7 separate regions of the Homo sapiens genome follow, and regions 2, 3, 4, 5, 6 and 7 are each linked to region 1. The links come from fine-mapping of genetic effects on gene expression. A gene starts in region 1. Each other region holds a variant in brackets. All regions are shown on one strand. Distances are between the middles of the regions. Region 1 holds the start of SAMHD1 (SAM and HD domain containing deoxynucleoside triphosphate triphosphohydrolase 1). Region 2 overlaps DLGAP4 (DLG associated protein 4). Region 3 overlaps MROH8 (maestro heat like repeat family member 8). Region 4 overlaps SAMHD1 (SAM and HD domain containing deoxynucleoside triphosphate triphosphohydrolase 1). Region 5 overlaps CTNNBL1 (catenin beta like 1). Region 6 overlaps SAMHD1 (SAM and HD domain containing deoxynucleoside triphosphate triphosphohydrolase 1). Region 7 holds the start of VSTM2L (V-set and transmembrane domain containing 2 like).

The links.
Region 2: its variant is fine-mapped to the expression of SAMHD1 in whole blood (INTERVAL, PIP 0.95).
Region 3: its variant is fine-mapped to the expression of SAMHD1 in whole blood (INTERVAL, PIP above 0.99).
Region 4: its variant is fine-mapped to the expression of SAMHD1 in whole blood (TOPMed, PIP above 0.99).
Region 5: its variant is fine-mapped to the expression of SAMHD1 in whole blood (INTERVAL, PIP 0.98).
Region 6: its variant is fine-mapped to the expression of SAMHD1 in whole blood (INTERVAL, PIP above 0.99).
Region 7: its variant is fine-mapped to the expression of SAMHD1 in whole blood (INTERVAL, PIP 0.98).

Annotation. Positions count from the first base shown.
Region 1 is chr20:36,949,698-36,953,763 of GRCh38, reverse strand. SAMHD1 (SAM and HD domain containing deoxynucleoside triphosphate triphosphohydrolase 1) reads left to right here and starts at 2,056. Exons shown (of 16, transcript NM_015474.4): 1 at 2,056-2,328. The coding sequence starts at 2,121. RefSeq lists a silencer at 2,342-2,561.
Region 2 is chr20:36,413,609-36,417,674 of GRCh38, reverse strand. The region is part of intron 2 of DLGAP4 (DLG associated protein 4); the gene reads right to left. Among named protein-coding and RNA genes, the nearest start is that of DLGAP4, 110 kb to the right of the region's middle. The variant C/T (reference allele first, on the strand shown) is at 2,154.
Region 3 is chr20:37,151,980-37,156,045 of GRCh38, reverse strand. MROH8 (maestro heat like repeat family member 8) reads left to right here. Exons shown (of 25, transcript NM_152503.8): 9 at 879-983. Among named protein-coding and RNA genes, the nearest start is that of RPN2, 25 kb to the left of the region's middle. The variant G/A (reference allele first, on the strand shown) is at 2,220.
Region 4 is chr20:36,907,637-36,911,702 of GRCh38, reverse strand. It overlaps SAMHD1 (SAM and HD domain containing deoxynucleoside triphosphate triphosphohydrolase 1), which reads left to right. Exons shown (of 16, transcript NM_015474.4): 11 at 370-485. Among named protein-coding and RNA genes, the nearest start is that of TLDC2, 34 kb to the right of the region's middle. The variant C/T (reference allele first, on the strand shown) is at 1,682.
Region 5 is chr20:37,758,400-37,762,465 of GRCh38, reverse strand. All of the region lies in intron 5 of CTNNBL1 (catenin beta like 1), which reads right to left. Among named protein-coding and RNA genes, the nearest start is that of CTNNBL1, 66 kb to the right of the region's middle. The variant T/G (reference allele first, on the strand shown) is at 2,492.
Region 6 is chr20:36,924,341-36,928,406 of GRCh38, reverse strand. It overlaps SAMHD1 (SAM and HD domain containing deoxynucleoside triphosphate triphosphohydrolase 1), which reads left to right. Exons shown (of 16, transcript NM_015474.4): 6 at 1,155-1,225. Among named protein-coding and RNA genes, the nearest start is that of SAMHD1, 25 kb to the left of the region's middle. The variant C/T (reference allele first, on the strand shown) is at 2,449.
Region 7 is chr20:37,901,702-37,905,767 of GRCh38, reverse strand. VSTM2L (V-set and transmembrane domain containing 2 like) reads right to left here and starts at 2,641. Exons shown (of 4, transcript NM_080607.3): 1 at 2,297-2,641. The coding sequence starts at 2,417. The region is part of intron 2 of LOC124904896 (a long non-coding RNA gene); the gene reads left to right. RefSeq lists an enhancer at 2,378-3,341. The variant G/C (reference allele first, on the strand shown) is at 2,419.

The DNA.
Region 1 (4,066 bases):
TCAGGTGATCCACCCGCCTCGGCCTCCCAAAGTGCTGGGATTACAGACGTGAGCCACTGCGCCTGGCAGGAACACCTTTATACTTTCCTCCATGGGTCTGCAGGAAAAGGGAGCCATTGAAAATTGTGGGTTAAATAATAGAAAATAGTTTTATATCAAAACCCCCTTTACTTATTTATTTATTTTTTATTATTATTATTTTTGAAACAGAGTCTTGCTCTGTTGCCCAGGCTGGAGTGCAACGGGAAGATCTTGGCTCACTGCAACCTACACCTCCCACATTTGAGTGATTCTCGTGCCCCCGCCTCCTGAGTAGCTGGGATTACAGGCATGCACCACCAGGCCTGGCTAATTTTTGTATTTTAGTAGAGATGGGGTTTCACCATGTTGGCCAGGTTGGCCTTGAACTCCTGGCCTCAAGTGAGTGCTCTGGCCTCCCAAAGTGCTGGGATTACAGGCATGAGCCACTGCACCCAGCCCCAAACCCCCTTTAACAAGCAGTGGTTGGCAAGTTATCAAGACCATGGACTTTGGAACCAAGTTACATCTCTTGGGTTTGAATACAGGCTTCATCATTTCCTAGCTGTAAGACCTTGGGCAGCTGGGTACGGCTGTGTAATCCCAGCACTTTGGGAGGCTGAGGTGTGGGAATCACCTGAGGTCAGGAGTTCAAGACCAGCCTGGCCAACATGGTGAAATCCTGTCTCTACTAAAAATACAAAAATTAGCCAGGTGTGGTGGCAGGCGCCTGTAGTCCCAGCTACTTGGGAGTCTGAGGCATGAGAATCACTTGAACCTGGGAGGCAGAGGTTGCAGTGAGCTGAGATCACGCCACTGCACTCCAGCTTGGGAAACAGAGCAAGACTCCGTCTCAAAAAAAAAAAAGAAGACCTGCGGCAAATTACTTTTTCCTACATCCTAAGGTAATTGTGATAATTAAGTGAAGTAATATGTGTAGAGCCCTTAGAACTTTACAATATTTGTAAAACCCTTAGAAGTTATAAAAATTATTTAATATTTAAATAATTTAATGAATGTACTTAATTCATTTAGTATTATGTATAAATATAAAATTATTTTATATTTGTAAAGCCCTTAGAACCGTGCCTGGCACACAGTAAAGCTCTGTTTGCAAATAATATTTTGGCTCACCAGTAGACCACTAGTTCATACTGCTTGATGATAAGCTATTCCGCCTCATTCGTCCTTGACCCCCTAAACAGGTCTATGCCTTGGTTGCTGGGAAGGTGTGTTGGCTTTATTAACAGTAATAGTGATATGTCCTTTTACCAGGCAATTGCATGGACCAGTATTTATAGGGAAGTTTGAGCCCTGCCGCAGAGGGGTTAAGTGATGGGAAAATGCCTGCCATTTTCACATGCTGTTACAACCAGGCAGTAAAAGTCCTCAGAAGTTAAATTTTAAGTAATCAGACTGGCCACTTTCCTTCCTCTGGGAATGCAGTTGGGATGGAGGGCTCTGTCTCTAGTTGGAAAGAAGTCTGAAGTCCCCTCCTGTGTGGACACCAGACAACAGGTATCCCAGGGCCCTCTAGTTGACCAGCAATACTGTGGAATGAAGACACCCTCAAGTCACATTTGAAATCATTCCGGGTTCTTCCAGTTCAGCACCTTGACTGTTTTCCTCTTCACTGGGAAGGTGCTGGCAGCCTGACGGCCTTTTAGGCTTCTTTTAAGTTTGGGGCATCTGAAACCCGGCCAAGGTGCGGCGGGTAGTGTACTCATTCGAAGGAGAATACCCCCAATTCACTAGACGAGCCCCTAATTGGGGGTGCGGTGCCGGGCGCGCTCTTTCCTCCCCCTTTCCACCAGCACTGCCCTCAGTTCTGCTTCTAGCCACGCCCTTTCGCGTTCACGTCCAGCGCCCTGGCGGGATTGATTTGAGGACGACTGGACTGCCATTGCGCCTGCGCAGGGAGCCCAAGGCAAGAGCCGCTAGGCTGCCCTGCCCGAAGGGCTCAACTGTCAGTGAGCCTGCGCAGGAGGCCAATAGGCTGCCAATACTCCTTGGACTCCCCGCCAGGGCCCTGCTGTCAGTGCGCCTGCGCGCGGGTCCGGCGCCGAGGTTCTTGACTGCTGTGCCGGACGCCAGGTGTAGCCATGCAGCGAGCCGATTCCGAGCAGCCCTCCAAGCGTCCCCGTTGCGATGACAGCCCGAGAACCCCCTCAAACACCCCTTCCGCAGAGGCAGACTGGTCCCCGGGCCTGGAACTCCATCCCGACTACAAGACATGGGGTCCGGAGCAGGTGTGCTCCTTCCTCAGGCGCGGTGGCTTTGAAGAGCCGGTGCTGCTGAAGAACATCCGAGGTAGCGGCTCCGGAGGGGCTGAGGGGCGAAGGGCGGCGACCTGGGGCGCGGGCCAGGCGCCCTGAGGGAGGGGGCCCCACGAGAGGACCGAGGCCGAGGAGCGAGCCCTGCGGCGGGAGGCACCCGGGAGGGCGGACCTGCGCTGGGGGCGCCGAGGAAAGGAAGACCCGAGGCGGGGGAGGGAGCCCTGCGGCGGGGGTTCCCAGGAGGGCCTGCGGCATGGGGCTCCCGGGACTGACTCCCCGAGGCGGAGGAAGAAGACATGGGGTCGCCTGGGATAGGCGATTCGTAGGATGGGAGCAGGCTCCCGGGATTGAGGACCTGGGAGGGGCAGTCGTAGATTGGGATCTCACTCTCGTGGGTTTCTTCACTAACTTGCCACCCCGGCGCGGGACAAGCGAGACTCGGGTCCCTTTTTTTTAGTTAGAAGGAGATTTTTCCCCAGACCTTGGTGGGCGGCTTGCTGTCATCCAGGCTCGCGGGACCCCTCCGCGCTAACCGCAGCTCCTTGAACACTTGCCACATCAGAGGATGTTCTGGGGCTTTTAGGTTTCGGTTTCCTCCCTGAATTGAGGCTTTTCCTGAAGGGGAAGGAACTGGCTTGGTTAATCTCTGAATTCCCATCACCTTCCTTGGCATCCCAGCAGCGCCCGATAGGCGTGTGTTGACTGCACTTGCAGAACATGGTAAGGAACATGTTTTGCTCTTTAAAAGCAGGTTCCCCTCCAAAATCTGAACCTTGGGGTTGTTCAGTTGACCACTGAATCCCCAGCATGCCACAGTTTGGCCACATCCCCTGGAGAAGTGTTTAGGTTGAGTTTTAATCATATTTTACTGATTCGTATCCAAGCATCCATCCTTGTGAATTCTACTCAACTTTTTGTGGTGGGTGTGAGATTTGACTCCTGCCTTATATCCTCTAGGTGTCCAATAGGAAGGTGATTCTTTGGTGGTTGGGATTTGCAAATTTAGTAAATTTTTGCATTTGTTAGGTGGGGCCCTGTTTGGCTAGGTTGGAAACTGGGGTAGGAGGAACATTAGTGGTTCAGGACCCAAAGATAGCTTGAATGGGTATGGGAAATTGCATTTCTCCTTTTTTTTTTTTCTTCCCCCTTTTGCCCTTTCGTTTCCCTCCACTGCTGGGATGGATTATTACTTTATTTTCTTTGACTAGCAACAAGTGGAGTGAAGTAGTTCCATATTTTCTGTCTCAAAATGTGGTTGGCTCTCTGTTTCAGTGGTTTGTAGATTAACTCGTTACCCTCCAGAATGATGTGTGTTCCTTAAACCTACAACCTATTGCTATCAAAGACACTATGTGCTTTCATTTGGTAAAAACTGACCAACTGTTCCCAATTGCTCATGTCTTAGCTTCTGCTTTGTCTTGACCAAACTTTATTCGGACTTCTCTCTTCCCTTATGGGCCCCTCAACTCTTGCTTACCCCCAGATCTGACCAGGCAGGCACTAAAGCAGTGGAATATGCCTCCCTCTGGTCAGTTTCTTTTGAGAACCGGCTGACCACAGTAGGATGCTGTCCTGTTGGGCTACACTGCTCATTTTCCCTTGCTCGTCCAGGTTCCTATCCAAAGATTCTGCTTATTTCTGCTTGCCCGTCCTTTATCATATAAAAGAAGACCCTTTTTCTGTTGGATTCTTTTTTTTTTTTTTTTTTTTTTTTGAGACAGAGTCTCGCTCTGTCGCCAGGCTGGAGTGCAGTGGCGCCATCTCGGCCCAGT
Region 2 (4,066 bases), 540 kb after region 1:
CGGAGACTCATGCTTATAATCCCAGCACTTTGGGAGGCCAAGGTGGGAGGATCACTTGAGCCCAGCAGTTTGAGACCTGTCTGGGCAGCATAGTGAGACCCTGTCGCTCCAAAACATTAAAAAAATTTGGCCAGGTGTAGCCGTGTACACCTGTAGTCCTAGTGACTTGGGAGGCTGTGACGGGAAGATTGCTTGAGCCTGGGAGGTTGAGGCTTCAGTGAGCCGTGATTGTGCCACTATACTCCAGACTGGGCAACAGAGTGAGACCCTAACTCAGAAAAAACAAAAACAAAAACAAAAACAAAAACAAAACTCAAACTCCAGCCTGCTCAGCCCACCAAAGCCATGCCAGTCTCCTCCTTAGTTACTTCCCCAGCGCTCCCAGCTCTTGCCTGCCATGGGGCCTTTGCCCATGCTGTTCCATCCACCCCTCAACACTTCACATACTCGGCTGCCTCTATTGATTTAGATCCCTGATTAAACGTCACCTCCTCAGAGGCCACCCCAGACCCCTGTGTCTAGAAGTCACCTCCCTCCCACTGCGTTCTCTCAACACCCCTCCTGATTGTTTTCCAAACCTGACCAGGGTCTCTGATTATCCTGCTTGGCTCCTCACATACTTGATTAGTGCCTCCCGCGCTCTGTGAGCTCCAAGAGGGGAGGGACCGCACCTGTTTCATTTTCCACTCTATCCCTGGTGCTAAGCGTAGAGTTGGCACCTAGTAGGTGCACAATCAACACTTGTTCAATGAATGAGGTAGTCAGACAGAGCCTCAAAGGGAGGGGAGCTGGAGAGCTGCAGCTGCCCGATGGGAGAGAAGGGAGTTGATGGATAGGCCTCTCCACACCTCTTTTTTGCTTCTTCTCCATGTCTGAATCCCACACAGGCTAGGCTGGCGTTTCTGTTCCTGAGAACATTCCTTAAAACACCCTATCCTTAGCCAAGCCTTTCCCTGCTTAAAATCCTTGAAGCTCAGAGAAGACACACCCTGCTCCAAGAAATCTTCCCTGACCTTAAAAGTCGGGGGTAAGGCCTCCTCTGGGTTCCCCATGATGGGAGCTCCCACCTGAGGAGTCACAGATTAACCTAAGTGTCCCTCTGAGCCAGAAGCAACGACTCTGTACAGAGCTGGCCCTCTATACATGGTGGTGCATGGAGAGGGCGACAGACATCCTGGTTCGCCCGGGTTCCACCAACTGTCCTGGAGTCCCCGATGGTTAGTGCTGTTTCATTCTCAAAAATGTCATGGTTTAGGCCGGGTGCGTGGCTCACGCCTGTAATCCCAGTACTTTGGGAGGCCAAGGCAGGTGGGTCTCTTGAGGTCAGGAGTTCGAGACCAGCCTAGCCAACATGGTGAAACCCTGTCTATACTAAAAATACAAAAATTAGTCAGGTACAGTGGCATATGCCTGTAATCCCAGCTAGTTGGGAGGCTGAGGCAGGAGAATCGCTTGAACCCGGGAGGTGGAGGTTGCAGTGAGCCAAGATCATGCCACTGCACTCCAGCCTGGGCGACAAAGCAAGACTCCATCTCCGAATAAATAAGTAAGTAAATAAATAAATAAGTCATGGCTTAGATAATGAATTATACGCTCATCCCAAGCATAAAGGACCATGGGGACATACAGCAAAGGAAGACAGGTCTGTGGCTGACATAAAGCATATGAGTCTGGTCTGAGCTTCTTCCCTGGACTCCCAAGCCAAGACCCCTTCAACCCCTGGGGAATCAGGTTCCCCCATCCTCACCTAGGAAAAGTCTGAGTTGAGGGGATGAGAGGGTGATCCTGATGATGATCATGGCTGGCCCCTCCCCTCCATCTCCAGGCCTCACCTGGGGACCACCACTTGAGATTCCAGGCTTCAGTGCCACTCCCTCTGCTGGCCCCAGGGGAGGTTGAGTAGGAGCCTGCCCCTGGAGATAGTGTATGTGTGTGTATGGCGTGGAGGCTGGGAATGTGGCTCTGGAGCCAGCCTTCTTGAGTTTGAATCCTGGTGCCAACATTTACTTGCTGTGTGACCTTGAGCCACTTACCTAACCTCCCTGAGCCCCAGTGTCCTCAAAGGGTTGTTGGGAGAGATCAACGAGGTAACACAGACAGATGGTTCTCAGCACAGAGGCTGGCATACAGCAAATACGCAAGTATTGCTGTTA[C/T]TATCCCTAACAATGAGTCCCACCTACACAAGGAGGTCAGGGTGCTAGAGGAAGGATGGGCTCTAGAGCCAGACAGGGCCGGGCACTGTCTCTATTTAGCCATCTAGAAGTTCAGAGAGGGACTGAGATTTGGCCTAGTCACACAACATATTGGTGGCAGCTGCAATTTGTACCCAGACCTCTGGACTCCTAGGCCAGCGCTCTCTGGACGTTTTCGTTTGTTTTGTTTCTGTTTTTGTTTTGTTTTGTTTTCTTTTGAGACAGAGTCTCACTCTGTCACCCAGGTTGGAGTGCAGTGGCACAACCTTGGCTCACTGCAACCTCCACCTCCAGGTTCAAGCGATTTTCATGCCTCAGCCTCCTGAGTAGCTGGGATTACAGGCATGTGCCATCATGCCTGGCTAATTTTTGTATTTTTAGTAGAGACGGGGTTTCACCATGTTGGTCAGGCTGGTCTCAAACTCCTGGCCTCAGGTGATCCACCTGCCTTGGCCTCTCAAAGTGCTGGTATTACAGGAATGAGCCACTGTGCCCAGCCCTCTCTGGAGGTTTTGAACCAACAAAGGTTGGGTATGTTCTGGGCTGTGAGCTCTTTCTGCATGGCCCTCATCCCTCCTTGCATTCCCAGAGCACAACTCTCTAGACTTGCTCTATACATATGATTAAACTTAAATAGAATTAAATTTAAAATTTCAGTTGCATTTGCCATATTTCAAGTGCCCAGTGGCCACAAATGGCTAGTGGCCATTTCCCATGAGGCTTACATGGAACTGGAGGGGGACAGGAACAGGGCCTCTGCCCCCTGGAGCCCCCATGGAATACTCTCTAAAGCCTGTGAGTTGTGGAATGTCACCCAGCACCAAACCTCTCATGTCTGATCCAACTCTCTCACGCTCCACTTTGCTAACTGGGCTCAAGCAGGGGCTGACACTTGCCCAAGGTCACACAGCAGGTGGAGGGCTCAGTTCTCCTGATCCTGAGCTTTCTGCACACTCAGGCTGGAGAATCAGCAGCCTGGCCATGCTTGGAGAAGTGCTAGTCAACAGAAACAACTTTTTGCTGATGAATAAATACCAAAAACCACCCTGGTATGGACATTCCTGGGGCCTTGCAGAAGAGCTGGTGGGGGACAGCTGGCCACAGCTGCAGGGCGGGCACCGATCAGCCCTAGAGATGGCTCTCCAGGTCACCACTGGGACAACTATAGGGCTGGGAAGGGGGACGACGCAGGCACTCATCTTTCCGCCTTCCCATTCCAGCAGGGTCTGGATGGACCAGGATCACCCCCTTGGCTGCTGTTTTCAAGCAGGGTTTGTTGTTGTGCTTGTGGGGGCTGGGACCCCAGTCCTGGCTAACTCACCTTGTGACCTCAGGCAAGTCACCTTTTTCATCTCAGTTTTCTTCATTTGAAACTGGAGATGATTATCCCAACGGTGTGGGGCTCTTGTGAGGGGCAAACGGGACCAGCTGGATAGGAAAGAGCTTGTAAACCAGGCATCCTTAAAGGGGGAAGAGAACAGGTCTGGACCCTATTTGACCTGGGTATAAATCTCACTCTACTTCTTCCCCATGGTGTGACCCTATGCATGTCAGCTGGCCTCTCTGAGCCTTGGTTTCTTAACATGGGAAGCATGTATCAGACACTTCACTTGCCATACAATGGAATATTATTCTGCCATAAGAAGGAATGAAGTTCTGATCCATGTCTCAGCAGGAATGAACCTCAAAAACATGCTCAGTGAAAGAAGCCAGAGGCAAAGGCCACCTAAGGTAGGACTCCCTTTATATGAAATGTCCAGAATAGGCCGGGCGCGGTGGCTTATGCCTGTAATTCCAGCATTTTGGGAGATCGAGGAGGGTGGATCACGAGGTCAGGAGCTCAAGACCATCCTGGTTAACATGGTGAAACCCCA
Region 3 (4,066 bases), 200 kb before region 1:
AGCAGTCGTCCCACCTCAGCCTCCCGAGCAGCTGGGACTACAGGCACACGCCACCATGCCCAGCTAATTTTTGTATTTTTTTGTAAAGATGGGGTTTCACCATGTTGCCCAGGCTGGTCTCCAACTCCTGGGCTCAAGCAGTCAGTATAATCCCTCCGGCAGTGCTGGGATTACAAGCATGAGCAACCACACCTGGCTGTCCTCAGAGTTAAACTTTAAAATTAGTAGCATGTTGTTAACTTTATTTCTTTCCAAAGCAGATTTGAAAGAGCTAAAAACATTCAGAAGTACAGAATAATTAATTGAAGAATTGGGCTGAAGAGAAAGTAAGTCTAGAAAATAAGCTCTGGCCAGGCACAGTGGCTCACGCCTGTAATCCCAGCACTTTGGGAGGCCAAGGCGGGCAGATCACCTGAGGTCAGGAGTTCGAGATCAGCCTGGCCAACATGGTGAAACCCCGTCTCTACAAAAATACAGAATTAGCTGGGCGTGGTGGCGAGTGCCTGTAGTCCCAGCTACTCGAGAGGCTGAGGCAAGAGAATCACTTGAATTTGGGAGGCAGAGGTTGCAGTGAGCCAAGATCACACCATTGCACTCCAGCCTGGGCAACAGAACAAGACTCCATCTCAAAAAAAAAAAAGAAAAGAAGCTCCTAAGCTCCTATATAACAACCAAACCACCCACCACCCATGTCTTTGTGCCTTGCTTGTCATTCTACCACTTTTATTTCCAACCTGAGCTATAATAGCATTTAGCAAAGTATTTTGAGATCTGGTAGCAACATGGAACTTGTCACTCCACATTTCTTTCTAAACACAATAAGGATGGTATCCCAAATCTTCCTGATAAACCATTTAGCCTCCCTTTATTTCTCACAGCACTTGGTCCCCTGGTTACAGTCAGTCAAAGACCATGAGCGGGAACGGGCCACGGCCAGCATGGCTCAAGTTCTGAAGTGCCTATCCAAACATCTCAACTTGAAGGTGAGCGGCCCTTCAGTTGCAGAGGAGGAAAGATCCAAAGCCATTCCCTCACTGCCGATTTCTCCTCCTCTTTATAACTCCCCAGGCTGGTTCTGTGTCCCCTTCGTGCTCATGTACTATCATAGCACTTAGCATTGTCTTCTTATCTGCTCTTCTCCTGAGCAGCTTGGGGCCAGTTGCTGTGTTGATTAATCTTTGCATCTCCATTGCTTAACACAACAGCTGGAACATAATGATATAGTAACTATAACCTGAAAATACCTGAGGCCCATGGTGGCTAGTCTCTGTATAGTATTATATTTGAGTACAGCAGGCAAATTTAAATAAATCAACTTCAATATCTCCCAGCAACTCAAAGAGAGTGGTACTATGGCACCTCTTCAGATCCTCACATTTCTCTTTCTCTCTCTCACTTCTCAGTTCTGAATCATCTCCCCTATGGCATCTCATTATTATGATGATCATTATTCAAGGCAGGGTCTTGATCCATCACTCAGGCTGGAGTGCAGTGGGGCCATCATAGCTCACTGCAGCCTTGAACTCCTGGCCTCAGGCAATCTTCCTGCCTCAGCCTTCCAAGTAGGTGGGACTACAGTCACACGCCACCACGCCTGGCTAATTTTTATTTATTTATTTATTTATTTTGGTAGAGATGGGGTTTCACCATGTTGCCCTGGCTGGTCTCAAATTCCCAGGTTCAAGTGGTCCTCCTTCCTTGGCTTTCCAAAGTGCTGGGATTACAGACGTGAGCCACCACGCCCGTCCTCTTCTGGATTTTTCTGAGGAAGGTCCATAGTTTTTTTTTAAATCAATTTTATTGAGGTATAATTTGTATACAATGAATTTATCCAATTTAAGTATACAGTTCAATGAGTTTTGACAAATATATATTATCTGGGTCTCTAACTTTTTTCATATTCTCAAAGAAATCTAAAGAATAAAGAATAAAAAAGGAAATGCTGAAGAAGCATTTAGTAATCAAACTAGGAGCGTAATTCTTCAGTGGCCTTTTTTGTCTTGATAAAGTTTGGGGGTTCTTAATATTATGATTATAAAACTTAGGGCCGGGCGCGGTGGCTCACGCCTGTAATCCCAGCACTTTGGGAGGCCGAGGTGGGCGGATCACGAGGTCAGGAGATGGAGACCATCCTGGCTAACACGGTGAATCCCCGTCTCTAATAAAAATACAAAAAATTAGCCGGGCGTGGTGACGGGCGCCTGTAGTCCCAGCTACTC[G/A]GGATGCTGAGGTAGGAGAATGGCGTGAACCCGGGAGGCAGAGCTTTCAGTGAGCCGAGATCACGCAACTGCACTCCAGCCTGGGCGACAGAGCGAGACTCCATCTCAAAAAAAAAAAACAAAACTTATTAACTGTTTGTCATTCAGTGACAGGTGCAGGCCACCACGCCTGGCTAATTTTTGTAGTTTTAGTAGAGACGGAGTTTCACCATGTTGGCCAGGCTGGTCTCGAATCCTTGGCCTCAAGTGATCTGCTTGCCTCGGCCTCCCAAAGTTCTGGGATTACAGGCAGAGCCACCGCGCCTGGCACCTTCCAAGTTCTTTTTTGTGCATGAGTGTGTTGGGGTGGGGGCTTCCATTTCCAATTTGTTCTCTACATATAGCCAGAGTCATCCTCTTCAGACCCATGTCATTCTTGCTTTTGTTTTGTTTCCTTGTTTTCTCCCCTGTGTTTTCTTTATTTTTCTTCATTTTCTTTTTTTGCCCCATGTCACTTCTTTGATCCAGTGATTTCCAAACTGATCTTAGAATACGGGGTCATGTCTGATGTAGGTCTGTCTACCTCTCTACACCTAAGTCCCCTGACTTATCACACAGCAGCCACCTTTACCTTCCTTCTTCCCACATAAGGCTCATCTTGCCTCATGGCCTTTGCACTTGCTGCCTTCTCTGCTTGGAATGACCTTCCCTAGCTCTGCACAGAGCCAGCCCCTCCTGGTTCTTTAGCACTGTGTTCAGATGTCTCGACCTCAAAAGGGCCTCTGCTCACCACAGACAGACCTACGCTTGCTCTCTGTCTCATCACTCTCTCCTTCCTAGGGCTGTCTAGAATCAGAGGTTATCTGGCTTGATTCTTTCTTTACTGCTGTGTTATCTGTTTCCCACTAATAGAATGTAAATTCTACCAGTGATTATGCTTGTCTTTTTTTTTTTTTTTTATGTGAGACAGGGTCTTGCTCTGTCACCCAAGTTGGAGTACAGTAGCACAATCACAGCTCACTGCAGCCTCAACCTCCTGGCCTTAAGCAATGCTCCTGCCTTAGCCTCCTGAGTAGCTGGGACTACAGGCATGTGCCACCATGCCTGGTTAATTTTTTTGTTTTTTATACAGATGGGGGTCTCACTATATTGCCCAAGGTGGTCCAAACTCTTGGGCTCAAACAATCCTCCCACCTCTGCCTCCCAGAATGCTGGGATTACAGACATGAGCCACTGTGCCTTGCAATTATACTTGTCTTGTTCAGCACAGTAGCCTCAGTGCCTGCCTAGCACAGAATCGGCCATGTGGTTGATGCTCAATTCAATATTGATTGAGTAAATGTGAGTCAACCCATGTCCCTTCTCTGCTCAAGACCCTCCGACGGCCAAAGTCCTCACAATGTTCTACAGGTTGCGACACCTTCTGGCCCATTCTTCATCTACTTCCTATTTCTTTCCCTATCGTTAACATCGCTGCAGCCAACCTAACCTACTTATGGTTCCTCAGAAACACCAAACATACCTTCTCAGTCCTTGGCGCTTGCCATTCTCTCTGCCCAGAATACTCTTCTCCCAGGTATCAATCTCTCATTTCAATATTAGTGAGGCCTTCCCTGACCATCCTAAAATAATAATTCTTATCCCTTTCCCCTGAATTTTTGTTAATCATGACATTTATCATCATTTGATACATAATACATTTTACATATTTATTTTGTTTACTTTGTGTTTCCCCAACTAGATCATCACCTCCACAAGCAGGGATATTCTCTTTTGTTGACTGCTTATATCCCCAGTGCCAGTCATAGTTCCTGGCATATAACAGACACTGTATTTATTGGTTGATTGAATGAATGAAGGTTATATCA
Region 4 (4,066 bases), 42 kb after region 1:
TATTGTTGTTGTTTTGTAATTCAGAGATATCTAGTTTCAAAGCCTGGCACTGTTTCTTCCTAACTTGGTTAAATCAAAATTTACTTCATTTCTGCATCTATAAAATGAGGGCTGAATACACCTACCTTATTGTTGGGAGGAATAAATAAGATGGTGAATGCAAAGCCCTGCGACAGTGCCTGGAACACAGTAAGCATGGCAGCTCACAGCTTACCAAGCACAAATTTAGTACGGTGGAGAAGCAGTTGTCTTTAGAACACTGTGCCTCATTATTTTGTTTCCCTAAAGTAGAAAGATTTCCTTAAGTAAGACATAAGGCAAATATTCAAAATTTCTCATAAACATAAATTTTTGCAAAATGATTTTTAGGATTACAGATGCTTTCCTCAAAGCAGATGACTACATAGAGATTACAGGTGCTGGAGGAAAAAAGTATCGCATTTCTACAGCAATTGACGACATGGAAGCCTATACTAAGCTGACAGGTAAGAAGTAACAGGTAACATAGATGGTCCATCTCAGATAAACTGTAAGAAGTCCCTGAATTGCCAATGAGTTATTTTTCTTTCTTTTATTTTTCATTTTTAAAGATAATTATTTAATTTTAAAAAAATAAAGAAAGGGTCTCACTATATTGCCCAGGCTTCTCTCAAATTCCTGGGCTCAAGCGATCTTCCTGCCTTGACTCCCAAAGTGCTAGGATTACAGGTGTGACCCACTGTACACAGCCGATGGAACGATTTTAGCTTCCCAAGTAATTATCTCCTTTTGAATTTGAGTTTTATTTCTGTCTTGTACCAATAAAGTGACTTTGATAAAGGGATTTGACCTATCTGAATCTTTCATCTATAAAATGAGGGTAATGATACCTAGCATATAGTTTTGTTGTGATGTTTAAATGAGGCATAGCACCTAGTATAGACTTGATACGTAAGTACTCAATATACATTATTTAACTTTTTTTTTTTTTTTGGAGATGGAGTCTCGCTCTGTCACCTAGGCTGGAGTGCACTGGCACAATCTTGGCTCACTGCAACCTCCACCTCTTGGGTTTCAGCAATTCTCCTGCCTCAGTCTCCTGGGTAGCTGAGATTATAGGCATGCCCCACCATGCCCAGCTAATTTTTGTATTTTTAGTAGAGACAGGGTTTTACCATATTGGCCAGGGTCTTCTCGAACTCCTGACCTCATGTGATCCACCCGCCTCCATCTCCCAGAGTGCTAGGATTACAGACGTGAGCCACTACGCCCGGCCCATTATTTAACTTTTAAATTTAATTTTTTTTTATTTATTTATTTTCAGACAAGATTTTATTCTGTCATCCAGGCTGGAGTGCAGTGGTGCCATCACAGCTTATTGCAGCCTCAACCTCCGGAGCTCAAGTGATCCTCTTGCCTCAGCCTCAGCCAAGTAGCTGATTTGGCTACTTGGGACTATAGGCATGTGCCACCACACCTGGGAATTTTTTTTTTTTTTTTTGATACGGAGTCTTGCTCTGTCGCCCAGGCTGGAGTGCAGTGGCACAATCTCGGCTCACTACAAGCTCTGCCTCCCGGGTTCACACCATTCTCCTGCCTCAGCCTCCCGAGTAGCTGGGACTACAGGCGCCCGCCACCACACCTGGCTAATTTTTGTATTTTTAGTAGAGATGGGGTTTCACCTTGTTAGCCAGGATGGTCT[C/T]GATCTCCTGACCTCATGATCCGCCTGCCTCAGCCTCCGAAAGTGCTGGGATTACAGGCGTGAGACACCGCCCGGCCACACCTGAGTAATTTTTTTAATTTTTGTAGAGACAGGGTCCCATTATGTTGCCCAGACTTGTCATTATTTAACTCATACCTGGACTAATATTGAACACCAAAAAACTGACTTGGCCATTTAACATTATTTTCATTATAAAAACACAAGATGCCAGGAACATCTGTCCACACTTCTGCAGAAACAAAATCTGCAGCTTAGTGTGGAAAGGAGGAAAGAGAGGTAAAGGGTAAAGGTGGTTCTTTTTTTTTTTTTTTTTTTTTTTTGGAGGGGGGTGGACAGAGTTTTGCTCTTGTAGCCCAGGCTGTAATGCAATGGCACGATCTCGGCTCACTGCAACCTCCGCCTCCTGAGTTCAAGCGATTCTCCTGCCTCAGCCTCCTGAGTAGCTGGGATTACAGGCGCCCACCACCATGCCCAGCTAATTTTTTTGTATTTTTACTAGAGACGGGGTTTCACCATGTCAGCCAGGCTGGTCTGGAACTCCTGATCTCAGATGATCCATCTGCCTCGGCCTCCCAAAGCGCTGGCATTACAGGTGTGAGCCACCGCGCCCAGCCACAGCTGGTTCTTTAATGTGGGAAAGTATTGACTGAGATAAAGCAAAAGAAGTAGAACAAAAAGTGTACACCAGTCAGAGTTCTTAGTTACAAATTATGAAACTGTTTAACTAAAAATAAAATTGGGCCGGGCACGGTGGCTTACGCCTGTAATCCCAGCACTTTGGGAGGCCAAGGCAGGCAGATTACCTGAGGTCAGGAGTTCGAGACCATCCTGTCCAAAATTGTAAAACCCCGTCTCTACTAAAAATACAAAAATGAGCCAGGCGTGGTGGCACGCACCTGTAATCTCAGCTACTCAGGAGGCTGAGGCAGGAGAATCGCTTGAACCCAGGAGGCAGAGGTTGCGGTGAGCAGAGATCGCACCACTGCGCTCCAGCCTAGGCAACAGAGCAAGATTCTGTCTCAAAAATGAATAAATAAAAATAAATAAATAAATAAAAATAAAATTGGAAAGCAATCACATAGCTTACAGAATCCGTGGAAAGGCTGGAGGCTCTGAAAATGGAGAAAAACAACAGAAGCCAAGTGACCTAAGACACAGCCTAATCACTCTACCGTAGCTTCCTGCCGAGAGTGCTGCCGTTCTACCACAGCTGGATTCTATTTGCTGCACACTGACAGAATGAAACCTAAACTAGCTCCTCCTAAACTGTGTTTGAAGAACCAGTTTTTAAAATTACCAACCCCTTGCAGATTGATATTTCTGTAAAGTATGATAAAAATGAATTACTAGAAAAATGAAATGGGGGGAAAAGGCATGTAAAATACAAGCCCAAATTTTTATTATTCAACTTGACAGACTTCACATTACACCTTTCAGTAAATTCAATCAAAAGATAAATAATAGGCCAGACAAGGTGGCTCGTGCCTATAATCCCAGCACTCTGGGAAACCAAGGCAGTTGGATCGCTTGAGCCCAGGAGTTTGAGACCAGCCTGGGCAACATGGTGAAACCCTGTTTCTAAAAAATTTAAAAATTAGCCCTGGTGGTGCGTGCCTGTAGTCCCAGCTACTCAGGATGCTGAGGTTGGGGGGATCACTGGAGCCCAGGAGGCCGGGGTTGCAGTGAGCCAAGATTGCACCACTGAAGTCCAGCCTGGGTAACAGAGCGAGACCCTGTATCAAATAATAATAATAATGATAGAGAAAAAATTTAAAAATTAAATTACAAGAACTATATACATTGTTCTTTAAAAATATACATGTAAGGCTAGGCAGGGTGGCTCACGCCTATAATCCCAACACCTTGGGAGGCTGAGGCAGGTGGATCACTTGAGTTCAGGAGTTCAAGACCAGCCTGACCAACATGGTGAAACCCTGTCTCTACTAAAAATACAAAGTATTAGCTGGGCGTGCTGGCGGGTGCCTGTAGTCCCAGCTACTCGGAGACTGAGGCACGAGAATCAATTGAACCCAGGAGGCGGAGGCTGCAATTAGCTGAGATGGCATCACTGTATTCCAGCCTGGATGACAGAGCAAGACTCCTTCTCAAAAATAAAATAAATAAATAAGTAAAATAAAAGTTAAAAAAAAAATTGAACAAGCTGAAGATATTTACTTTTAATTTTCATTCATAATAATGCAAGTGATGCCATATTTTAAAAAGTCAGCCAGGCATGGTGGCTTACGCCTGTAATCCCAGCACTTTGGGAGGCCGAAGTGGGCAGATACGAGGTCAGGAGTTCGAGACCAGCCTGGCGCCTGTAATCCCAGCTACTCTGGAGGCTGAGGCAGGAGAATCATTTGC
Region 5 (4,066 bases), 810 kb before region 1:
TTCAAGGGCATGATCACACATCATCTTCCACTTGACCAAAGAGGATGGATATAAGAGAAGAGGAGGAAATAAAAAAGAGACAGATGAGAGGGTTTGAAGGAGGCTTCTTTTTCTATCTGGTACGATCTGCCAATAAGCTTTCTCAAGAATGAGATTGGGATTTTTCTGCCTACTAGGAGTTTCAGGAATTTCATATTTAAAACACAGTAATAACAATAAAACCCCACACCCACTGAATCTTGATCAAACAAGTTTTGAGAATAATATGGTAACATGGTCATAATGCAAAACTCAGGCCTGTTGTATCCTAGCTGTAACCTTTTAGCTTCCATTCTTGCCCCTCCAGTCCATTATCCACACAGCAGCTAGATGCTCTGTTTAAAATGCTGTCAGGCTATGACACCACTCCCCTGCTTATATCTTCTAATTACTTCCCTTCACCCTGGCAATGCCACCCAACCTCTTCACCAAGGCCCACAGAGCCCAGCGTGGTCTGGCCCTGACTCTGCTTTCTCCCCTCGCCCCAGCTGCACATTAACAAGACTGGCCCCTTCTCTGTTCCTTGAATATGTCAACCTCAGTCTTGCCTTAGGTCTTCTGCCCTTTTCCCATCCTGCTCTTGATCATTTTGAATGGCTGGTTTCTTCCAGAACTCAGGCCTTGCCTGACTATTTAATCCAACCTGACTTCCCAGCTACTCTACATCACATCACTCTATTTTAATTCTCTTAAACAGAGAACCACTCTCTGATAGTTTTCTTGTTTATGTATCTACTGTCTCTCCCTACACTCATACCTTGTGAGCTCCACAAAAGCAGAGGCTTTGTCAGGCTTGCTCACAGCTATATAGCTGGTTCCTACAATCAGGAACACATCAAGCATTCAATAAACATTTAGTGAACAAATGAACAAATGAATTTTGCTTTGGAACAAATACAGATGAAGGTGAGAACATGAATGGAAATGGGAAGGAATAGAATCCAGGAATTTTCATAGTAAGTACCCTTACAGCAACATAAACCTGGCCAACCTCAGCCTCACCTGGGCAGCACAAATCCATTGCCAACCAAGTCCAAGGCAAACCAAGATAGGGCTTCAAAGTTTAACATTTCAGTAGAGTTAATTTAGTGCAGGAATGAGTATGGAGGGTAGTCCCCTGGCAGTCCACATCAAAGCCACTTTTTGTGGAACTCTATAAAGCGTTTCTATAAAGCAAATGCTGGCTCCTAGACACTGGCCAGCTACACCACCCAGCCACACTTCCATCTCTGTTGGCTGGGACACCTCCATATGCTCTCATATTAAAGCCCCCTTTCAGAGGCCATCACCGATGCCTGCATCTCTGCAGCCCTTCCTGATTATTCCATCAGAAGCGAGCACTCTCTCTTCATGTCCACAGAACACTGCCCCTCTCATAGCTGTTTTCAATGTTCTGCCTTGTATTATCATTACTTACTTCTTCCTTTTTTTTTTTTTTTAAACTAAAGCTCTATCCTCTCATTTCTTATTTAGGCCCACCCCATCCAAATGTGGTTTTATTGAGTGTTTGTTCAAAATGTTTTTGAAATATTTTTTAAACTGAAAAAAATGTTTGTGAACTCAATATTCACAGACATCTCACTGTGTGGTAGATGATACATACAATTTTAACCTGACATTTGCTAAATGCTTAATATCTGCCAGGCATAGTACCTTTATAATGATAATGGCCAACATTTATCAGGTGTTTACTCTGTGCCAGACTGTTCTAAAGACTTATTAAATATCTCACTTGTTCATCACTTTGGTACTGTATGATAGGCACTACTGTTATCTCCATTTTACAGAGAAAGAAACAGTATGGAGAGGTTAGTAACTTTCCCAAGGACACAGAATTGGTAAATGACAAAGTCACTGCTCTGACCACTCCCCTGACGGGGATCACACCTCAGGAAGGACAAACTTATAAACAGACATCTATAATCCAATGTGACAAGTGCCAGAATGTACAAAGTGCTAGAACAACACATCCTGCTGAGGTGATGAGTCTGGAAAAAACTCAAAAGGGAAGAGATAAAGGGATGAGAGGTAGTATTCCAGGTAGCCCCAGAGAAGCAAGGCTAGGCAAGTGGAAGGCAAAGCATGAGCGAAGGCATGGGACTACCTAGCACATGGCAAGTTTGGGGACTGGCAAGTAGAAAAATGACTGTAATTTAATCATCATTCTCAAGAAGTCCAAAGTCATCTTTGGAGAGGTAAGCCAGAGAATTGCCATCAAAGCAATATACCCTCTCGCTTACCACTCTTCAGAAAAGAGTCCATTTTCCAGGCTACCAGATCAACTTGTTACAAAGCACAAATATTTGCCTTTTGCGTAAGTAACAGCAGTGGATATGAACCAAATTTTAAAACCCCGAAGATCCCTGAGAATGCCAGGACAGTGTTCTTTCCCCACAAATGTGCCATCCTATTGCTTAGGACTTCCAACTGGGAAAAAGACCAAAGCAATAAC[T/G]GCAAACTGCACACCACAATAAATTCTGCCACATGCCCTCTAGCCTCTGCTCGTGCAATTCTAGGCCTCAGATATTGGCCTCAAATTAAAACTACAAAGACAACTCAACCCTTGTAATATGAGAGTACTTATCAAATTTCTTCCTGAATGCAGCCAAGAGTAAAAAAAGTAAATGGAAGACCACCGCTGGTTCTGTTCTCTGATATTTACTGATGACTTCCGACTGGTTGCAGACAAGCAAATAATCTACTGGAGTCCAGGAATGTTCAATGCTTGTGATTCCTACCAGCCCCACCAGGATAAACCTGTAAGAGTCAAAATCTTAAACTAATATAATAATAATAAAAATAAAAACTAAACTAAACAAACAGAACATCCTGTATAGCAGTTACCTAGTGGCTCCCCAGACTGAGGGTGAACTGTTTCTTTCCAAACAAACAATAAAATCTGCCAAGATGCAGCTTTTGTCAGTGGGCTTGACAACACAGAAAAAACAAAGGGGGCTTTTGAGTGAATTGCTGTTTCTGGGTATGTTTTACATGCAACAGCCAGGCTAGCTGTTCCTCTCTCGTCTTCCCTATTCAGACAGGCAAAGGATGGTAATTAAAATCAGCCCAGGGACCAAGCAGGAAGGCTCATTCAGGGCCATGTAATTAACCTCTGGAAGGTAAGACTGCACAAACGACACTGCAGGGACACAGAGTAGGAGCAAGTGCCACAGTCTTTCCTCAGACGCCCCTCAAAACAAAACGACATCCCAACATCATCCTCTTCTTTCTGCACAGTGGTTCAAACGAAAAATAAATGCCCTGAATTCTACAAAAGTAGCAGTTTGCTCTCTAAAGGAGCCTGAAAGAAAAATGGCCATAGAAATTTTCATTATATTCGGTCATAAATGGCCCTGCTGGACACTAGCCTCACTCTCTGTAAGAGCCAGTTCTTCATAACCAGTGGGTTCACAACCCCTTCATTCACACCAAATGCCAACAGCAAGCACGGCACATGGGAAATTTCTAGTGTCGAGAACATTATGAGAAAGGGTGAGGAGGGGGTGGGCAGTGTAGCAGTGGGGTTTCGGGATCATCTGGGACCCCAGGCCCAGCCATTCTGATTCAGTGGGTCTTGGGTAGGACTAGAAAGTAGCCAAACAAGCAGCCCAGGTGCTTCTAATACTAGTGGCTGGAGTAATCTTTGATCAACTGCTAACTGAGTCAAAACCAATACTAACATTCTTACCAGAGAGAAAAGACAAGAGAAACAACAGAAGAAGAACAATCCACAGAGCCTTGAGGAGGGATACAGCTCTGCAGGTGGACAGAGCTCCACAGGTGGTATCAGGGTAGGGGCTGGACTAGATGCACTTCTGCCGCTGGCCAGCTGGGGTGCCTTTGCAGCTTTGTGGCCCTTTCTGATCACCAGTGAACTGGGGAATCTGGGGCAGTGGAAACAGAATTGTGTTGGGGATCAGAACATGCAGTCTCTTTTATCAGCTGTCACAGGACGGGCTGAGCGACCCAGCGGGAGGCTTCACTTCTGCAGCTGGGTTTCCTCACATGTAAGGCAGTTTGCCTAGCT
Region 6 (4,066 bases), 25 kb after region 1:
CCCCTTTTTTTTTCTTTTGAGATGGAGTCTTGCTCTGTCACCCAGGCTGGGGTGTAGTGGTGTGATCTTGGCTCACTGCAAGCTCCGCTTCCCAGGTTCACGCCATTCTCCTGTCTCAGCCTCCCGAGTAGCTGGGACTACAGGTGCCCGCCACCAAGCCCGGCTAATTTTTTGTATTTTTAGTAGAGACAGGGTTTTTACCATGTTGGCCGGGCTGGTCTCGAACTCCTGACTCAAAGTGATCCACCCACCTCAGCCTCCCAAAGTGCTGGGATTACAGGCATGAGCCACCACACCTGGCCCTAGTGGATTTTCTTGAAACTGCTATTTTAATCCAGATATTTTCAATCTGAAGATTTCAAAAAGTTTTTGGCATTAACATTCTTTTTAGTTACACAGAATTGTCCATTTATCAAGCCCTGTGTGGTGGTGCATGCTTGTAGTCCCAGCTATTCAGGTGGCTGAGGCAGGAGGATGACTTGAGGTCAGGAGTCCAAGGCTGCAGTGCATAATGATCATGCTTGTGAATAGCCACTGCACTCCAGCCTGAACAACATAGCAAGACTCTGTCTCTTCAAAAAACAACAAAAACTGCCCTTTTATCAGATTTATGTAAAACCTGGTGACTGGAGACTGCTCGATGGAGAGCTTACTTTTCCATGTTTCTGCTTCCTGTTCTCCTGTTTTAGAAATAGGAAGAAAGGGTTTGTCCCTTTTTGTGATTGTATTTTTAGATTATTAATTTCTTTTGCTATTCAAGTTAAACTAAAAAGATTAAAGAATTCAGTTTGGCTGAGTGTGGTGGCTCACGCCTGTAATCCCAGCACTTTGGGAGGCTGAGACGGGCGGATCACCTGAGGTCGGGAGTTCGAGACCAGCCTGACCAACGTAGAGAAACTCCATCTCTACTAAAAATACAAAATTAGCTGGATGTGGTTGCACACGCCTGTAATCCCAGCTACTCGGTAGCCTGAGGCAGGAGAATCGCTTGAACCCAGGGGGCGGAGATTGTGTTGAGCCAAGATTGTACCACTACACTCCAGCCTGGGCAACAAGAGCGAAACTCCGTCTCAAAAAAAAAAAAAAAAAAAAGGAAAAAGTTTTTGTTGGTTTACAGATGTTTTTCTTGTTCTAAGGCTGCTTTTGTTTTTAAGGTCATGGGCCATTTTCTCACATGTTTGATGGACGATTTATTCCACTTGCTCGCCCGGAGGTGAAATGGACGGTATGTATTCATACAGTCAATAGTCAATAAAAAGAAAGACTATTTAAGCAGGTTATTTAGTTAATTTATCTGTTTGGTTCCACTACTGTGTTATAAAATACTTCCCCATTACAGTGTCCAGGGTGCTTTCATTCACATATATATATATATGCTTTTGTTTGGTTCTCACAGTAGTCTGTAAGGAAGTTATCGTTATCTCCCTTTTTACAAATAAAGGAACTTGAAACTCTTGGATGTGTATTGATGCATCAAAAATCACAAAGCCGTTAAATACTGGAATCAGCAATACAAAACCAGTTGCCAGTTTAATACTCCTTCTGCTCCATTGTACTACTGTATAATAAAAGGCCAACTCCAGTTTTGACACATTTGGTATGACCACGAACTAACTTACCAGCCAAGTCATATATATTAAATGAATCATTTTAAAATTAGGCATTTGCAGGTGGCTGTCCCATATTTTGGAATCAATTTTTGAGAAGTAAAATTAGGTTGGTTTTTACTACACTGTATTTCTGGAACGGGAATAGAAAAAGGATATTAATATATATTGAAAACTTCTTACATGTCAACCACTTTTTTTTTCTCTCTCTCTTTTTTTGAGGTATAGTTCACATACAATAAGTTGTCCAGATCTTAAGTTCAGTGAGTTTTGACAGGCGTATACATCCATATGACTATTACCCAGTCAGGATATAGAACATTTTCATCTTCCTGAAAAATTCCCATGTGCTTTTTCCTAGTCAATTCTCACTCCCCCTCACCCCACCATCACCTTCTGATTTTTACAAACATAAATGAATTTTGTTGTTCTTAGACTTGATTAAGCAGAATCATATAGGAGGTCCTATTTTATGCCTTGCTTTATTTACTCAACATAATGGTTTTGAGATTTGTTCATGTTATGTGCCTCAGTAGTTGATCCTTTTTTTTATCGCCTACGTAGTGTGGCATTATGCAAATAAGTCACAATTTGTTTACCCTTTCTTGTTTTGTTGGAATTTGGATTGTTTTCAGGTTTTGGTTGTTATAAATAAGGTTGTCGTGCATATTATCGTACAAGATTTTGGTAGAAATACATTTTCTATGTTGTTGTAGTGTGGAAAGTTAATTACATTTTTAAAACAAGAAATACATTCAGCAGAAATACATTATTTTATAAAAATAAAAATAGATAAAATAAAGAAATACATTTTCATTTCACTTAGGTAAATACCGAGGAG[C/T]TAGAATTGCTGGGTCATATGGTAGATATGTATTTAATTCTATAAGAAACTACCAGAGTTTTCCAATGCGGTTGTACCATTTTACACTCCCATCAGCAACATACTGGAGTTCCAGTTGTTTTACAGCCTCATCAACATTTGACCTTTCAAATTAGCCCTTCTAATGAGTGTCAAATGGTATTTCATGGTTTGATTTTCTAATGTATGTTGAATACTATTTCCTGTACTTTGTACTTTGTTATTGATATATCTTCTTCTGCAAAGAACTCTCAACATTTTACTCGTTTAAAAAGTTTGATTGCTTGCTCTTTGATTACTGAGTTGTAGGAATTCTTTATGTATATATATGGTTAGGTATATGTATTGTGAATATTTTTCCCCAGTGTCTGGCTTGGCCAATTCATTTTTTCATGGTGCCTTTTGAAAAACAGACGTTTTCAATTTTGATGAAGTACTCTGGTTCTGCAAGCCAGTAAAATGGGTAGTTTCTCACCAGTTTTTCTGTCCTGGGGCCTGCCCTTAGGCAAAAAACCATAAAACCGGAATGTCACCCAGCACCTCTCCCTTCTAAGTATTGAGGTCTAACATCCACTTGGTTTTGGTCTCTCTCCAGGACCTTCAGGGAGTTGTCCAGAGCTTATAGTTGTTTTCTTCTGCAGTTGATCTAATAGGATCTTCTCAATCATTACCAAATCTATTCCTTTAAGCATTTTGCCTTTCACATTTAAATCCTTAGCTCGTGTACAATTTATTTTTGTGTAAGTATATGGGAGAAATCTTTTTTTTTCTTTTTTTTTTTTTTTGAGATGGAGTCTCACTCTGTTGCCCAGGCTGGAGTGCAGTGGTGCGATCTTGGCTCACTGCAACCTCCACCTCCTGGGTTCAAGCGAGTCTCCTGCCTCAGCCTCCTGAATAGCTGGGATTACAGGCATGTGCTACCACACCTGGCTGACTTTTGTATTTTTAGTAGAGATGGCTTTCACCATGTTGGTTAGGCTGGTCTCGAACTCCTGATCTCATGATCCACCCACATCGGCCTCCCAAAGCGCTGGGATTACAGACGTGAGCCACCGTGCCCGGCCGAGAAATCTAATTTTTTAATAGTTCATCCTATCCCCACTGACTGTAATACCAACCCCAACATTTATTAACTTCCCATATATGATGAATCATTCTGCATTCTGTTCTGTTTCCACACTTGTTACTTGGGGAAGAAAAAAAAAGAAGAAAAGAAATTTTTATCTGAGAAATATGAGCCCCTTTACATTATCAGGCCCAGAGAGGCATTGAAATAGAACAGCAATCATGTCACGCCCCCTTGAGCTAAATAATTATTATCTCTTGAAGCCAGCTGTTATGTGGGATGCCAGGTAACCATAAAATGCCATATATCCTGTACTTCATAATATGTAGCCAATCACTAACTAATGTTATTTCTGTAAGCCAGTGAACATTCCTGACTAACAACTTTTGTTATCACCTCCTCTTTGTGATCACCTCCTCCTCCTGATTTATGCTCTTTTCTTTTTTTTTCTTTTCTCTCCCTTCTGTCTCTGTCTCTCTTTTTCTCTTTCTCACTTTCTTTCTTTCTCATTCTTTCTCTTTTTCCCTTCCTTCC
Region 7 (4,066 bases), 950 kb before region 1:
GGCACGGCAGAGGGGCAGCTGTGGGGGCTCCTCGGCAGTCACTACTTGGTGACTTTGAACCTGGCAATGTCGGGGGAAGGCAGCCTGGCCCCTGCAGAGCAGCCTGGCTTCTTTGTTTCTTTAGGGACACAGGGAGACCCAGAGGGGTGGCTCACTTGCCCAGAGCCACACGGGGGTTTCAGGAGAGAAGCCAGGTTCCCCAGCAACTAGGGGTGCCTCCTTCTCATCTAGCCCCTGTCCTGGGCCTTAGCTTGACCTTCCAGGGTGCAGAGGGGAGATTACAGCTGGTTGGGCAGAGCTGTGCCCCCTCAGCTTACCTGGCACCAGGGGACAGGTAGAGACTGTCACACAAAGGGCAGACAGACCCTGCTTTTCTATGGGGGGGAGCCACCTTGGGGCCTTGGGAATAACAGACTGGCACCCAAGTCCCTGGGGTCTGGTGCTCTAGGGACAGAACGACCATAAGCCTCAGAGTCCCATTCCTCATACCCCTCGGGACTGCAAACTCAGGGAAGGCCCTCCATGGAAACCCCTCCTAGTGTAAGTTCCAACTGTGCCAAGGGACTGAGCGGAGCGAGGAGAGGAGGGGTGGAGAGGGAGGAATTCCCAGTTTCCCTAGAATGGGAGGGAATCTGACAGGGAGATGAATGTCCTGGAAAAAAGCGCTGTCTTTGCCTGACAGACCCTGGGGCCTGTCCTGGCTCAGTCACTCTCTTACTGTGTGACCTTGGGCAACTTCCTTCACCTCTCTGAGCCTTGGTTTCCCTATCTGTAAGTTGAGGATCAAAAGAACCCTTTCCTTATTTACCACCGCTCTAGCCAGGTCGGTAGAAATGAGGTGAGGGGCATGAAGGGTATGTAAATGATGCACACAGCAGTTACTACCAAACATGGTGAGGCAGAAGGGGGCGGGGAGTCATGGTTCCCAAAAAGCAGAGACCCTGAGGATGGCTTCGAAGCCCCCCTCTCCACTGGAGCAATCCCACTCATGTGTCATACCCCAGCAAAACCTTCCCTGATTATCTACCCTGCCTTACCCCCACTCACTCCCATCAGAATAAATCATCCAATTATCTGGCCTTTGTGCAAACCTCCCCACAGCCCTGGGCCCACAGTGCCCAGCACTGGGGCTGCAGCCTCCCCAACAAGGCTGTCAGCCTGTCTAGTGAAGGGCTGCATGGAAGAAAGGTCTCCTTTGGTTTCATCTATGCTCGAGCCTCCATCCCAGAGCCAGGCTCACAGGGGTCAGGGGGAGCCCCCACAGCTGCCGGGCTCATACAGTCCAACTCTGCTGCCAACTTGGGCTCCTTCGGGGCTAGCAGGAGCTTCTGACACTCAGCCAGCCAGTGCTGGGAATGCTTGTCTGCTCCCCGGCTTCCACAGCGGCTGGAGTTGAGATTTCCCACATTTCAGTCCTCTAGGGCCGAGGATGAGGATGGGGGTACCCTATGGAAGGATGGCACGGCTTCCTGCCCATCCCCAGAGGCAGACAAAAGCACCCGGCATTCCACTTCCACTCCCACTCCCATGCCTCTGGCTGCAAGCAGCAACCCCAACTACTCCGGTGGCTCTGAGGGGCTTCCACCAGGTGCCACCCGCCCAACTGGGAGGCTGCAGCCCCAGGCGACCAGTTCTCAAGAAACAAGGTCTTCTGCCCCCAAGGACCTTTCCAGTGGTATAGGGCTGGGTGTGGAGAGGAAGAGGACAAGGGCCTCTGTGCGGTTAAACCCAGAAGAGTAAAGGCAGATGGGCAGAGAGGAGTGGGTGAGCAAATTGTGTTCATGTGTGTGTATGTGTGTGCCTGTGTGTGTGTGCGCGCGCGCGCACCAGTGTGTCTGCAGGTGGGCAGGCAAGAGTTGTGGCGAAGCGTGTGCGCCAGCTGGCAGAGTGAGCCCACCGGCGCAGTGCCTGATGTGCGTGTGTAGTGGGCATAAGTGTAAAGGCTTGCAGTGAGGAGGGGGACCTGAGGTGTGTGGAGATGTGCAGGGTAGGAGTTGTGAGTGTGAGAAAGCAGCGACTGTGGCTCTGAGTGTGTCCGCGGCTGTGCATATCGGTGTGGCCATGCAGGTGTGCGTATCCGCGCGAGTGTGTGGGGAGGAGGTTCGGGGGTGCGCCCCGGGTGCCCCCTTCTCTGCAGGGCCAGGGTGCCAGGGCGGGTCCACCGCGCCGGCAGGGGGCGCCCCGGGATGCCCGCCACGACTGGCGCCGGTTCGAGCCCCGGGGCGGCCAAGTTGGAGTGGCGCGGCCCGGGTTGGGGTTTGGTGGGGAAGTCCGCGGGGGCGGCGACCGAACTCACCGTGGCCGGAGACGTGGTTGTCCCAGGGCGCGTGGCCGGCGGGCCGCGTGGCGCCGCCGAGTTGCAGGAAAAGTGCCAGGTAGTGGAGGGCGCCCAGCGCTACGGCGAGCGGGGCCCCCATC[G/C]TGCGCTCTCGGGCCGGGGGCGCCGCCGCCTCACATCTGGGCCCCGGAGACCGCAGAACCGGCGCCAGCTGTCCCCTGCCCTGAGCGGCCTGGCTGCCCGGCTCCGGCAGCTGCCCCTCGCCCGCTGTCCCCGGACCCGGCCCAGCTCCCAGCCCTCGCCCGGCTCCGGCCCAGCCCCGGCTTCGGGGAGCGAGCGCACGCCCAGCCGGCCGCCTCCGACTGCGGGACTCTTCCCTTCCGCGGAAGGCCACGCCGCGCCGCCGCCGCACCCTCCTCCCTCCTCCCGCCTCCCTCCTCCCCTCCCTCCTCCCCTCCCTCCTCCCGCTCGGAGCAGGCGGCGGAGGGATCTGCCGCTTGATTTATCATCAAAGTTTTGCCCAGGCTGGGATTTTTAAAGCGGTACCCGCAACTTTCCCCCGCCCGAGTGCGGAGGCGGGGCCGGGATGGGGCGGAGAGAGCCACCCCAGGGACGCGGTTCCCGCAAAGCACGACCCAACGGGCTTCAGCCACAGAAATGCCGTCCAGCGGGGAGAGGGAGAAAAGCCAGGGCACCCGCCGCCAGGCCAGCGCACTCAGAGGCTCCTAACTTTACCGGCAGGGCGGGGCCGGGGTCAGGGGCCAGTGGGGCTGGGGGTGAGGGCGAGGTAGGGTGGGAGCCTGGGCTGAGACCCAGGGGACCTGGTGATAGCTCTGCCGCCGACCTCGGCTCGCTGTGTGATCGCGTCCGGGTGTCTACCCCTCTCTGAACCTCGAAGTCTTCATCTGAGAAATAGGGGTAATAGCTGTCTGCGGGGGTCCTGGTGAGGATTTGCGAAATCGTGCATGCAAAGCGCTTAGCATAATGCTGCCTACGTGGTAGGAGCTCAGTAGTTATTATTGTCGGTGTTCCCCTTTCTGGGACTCAGTTTTCGAGTCTTTGTAATGGGAGAGAGACAGGCCAGTTAGTTGTTGCGGCTCCTGGCTCTTGAAGATACTGGACCTTATGTGGTGGATGGGATCGCCCCCTTCTGGACTGTAGGCTCCTTCCCTAGACCAATGAGCCTTGATGGTGTGTGTGTGCATGAGTGTGTGTGTGCGTGTGCGTGTGCGCGCGCGTATGCGTGGGTGTATGTGTGTGTGAGTGTGGCAGGGGAGGGGGATAGGGCACCATTCCCATTCCCAAGAGCAAGAATCCAACAAAGTCCTCCAGTTCCTTCCCAAGCCGTGTTACTGGGGCTGATGGGACAGACAGGAGGGCGGAACTGTGGTCCCATTTAAAAGATAAGGAAGCGCCTGAAATCAGGTAATTAGCTTCTCTGAGGTCCCACGGCGAGTCGGGCGAGGCCCCTGACTCCTGGGCGGGGTCCCTCCTGCTCTCATCCCTTGCCCTTCCCCAGGCCTCCCTGCTCACACAGCCTGGTCCTCCCGGTTTCAGCACCACGGAGGAGGACAGCGCCAGCCCCCCCCCCGCCCCCCGCCCCCCGCCCCACCCGGGCCCATCCTTTGGGCACCGTGGACAGCGTCTCAACTGGCCCTTTGATGCTAGGGTTCACACCGTGGACAGACCCTCAGACTTTCTTCCCCGTCCCCGTCGAACAGGGTCAACCCCTCCGACAGCCCACTCCCCACTCCAGAACACAGGTGGATCCCGCGTCCAGCCGTGTGTACA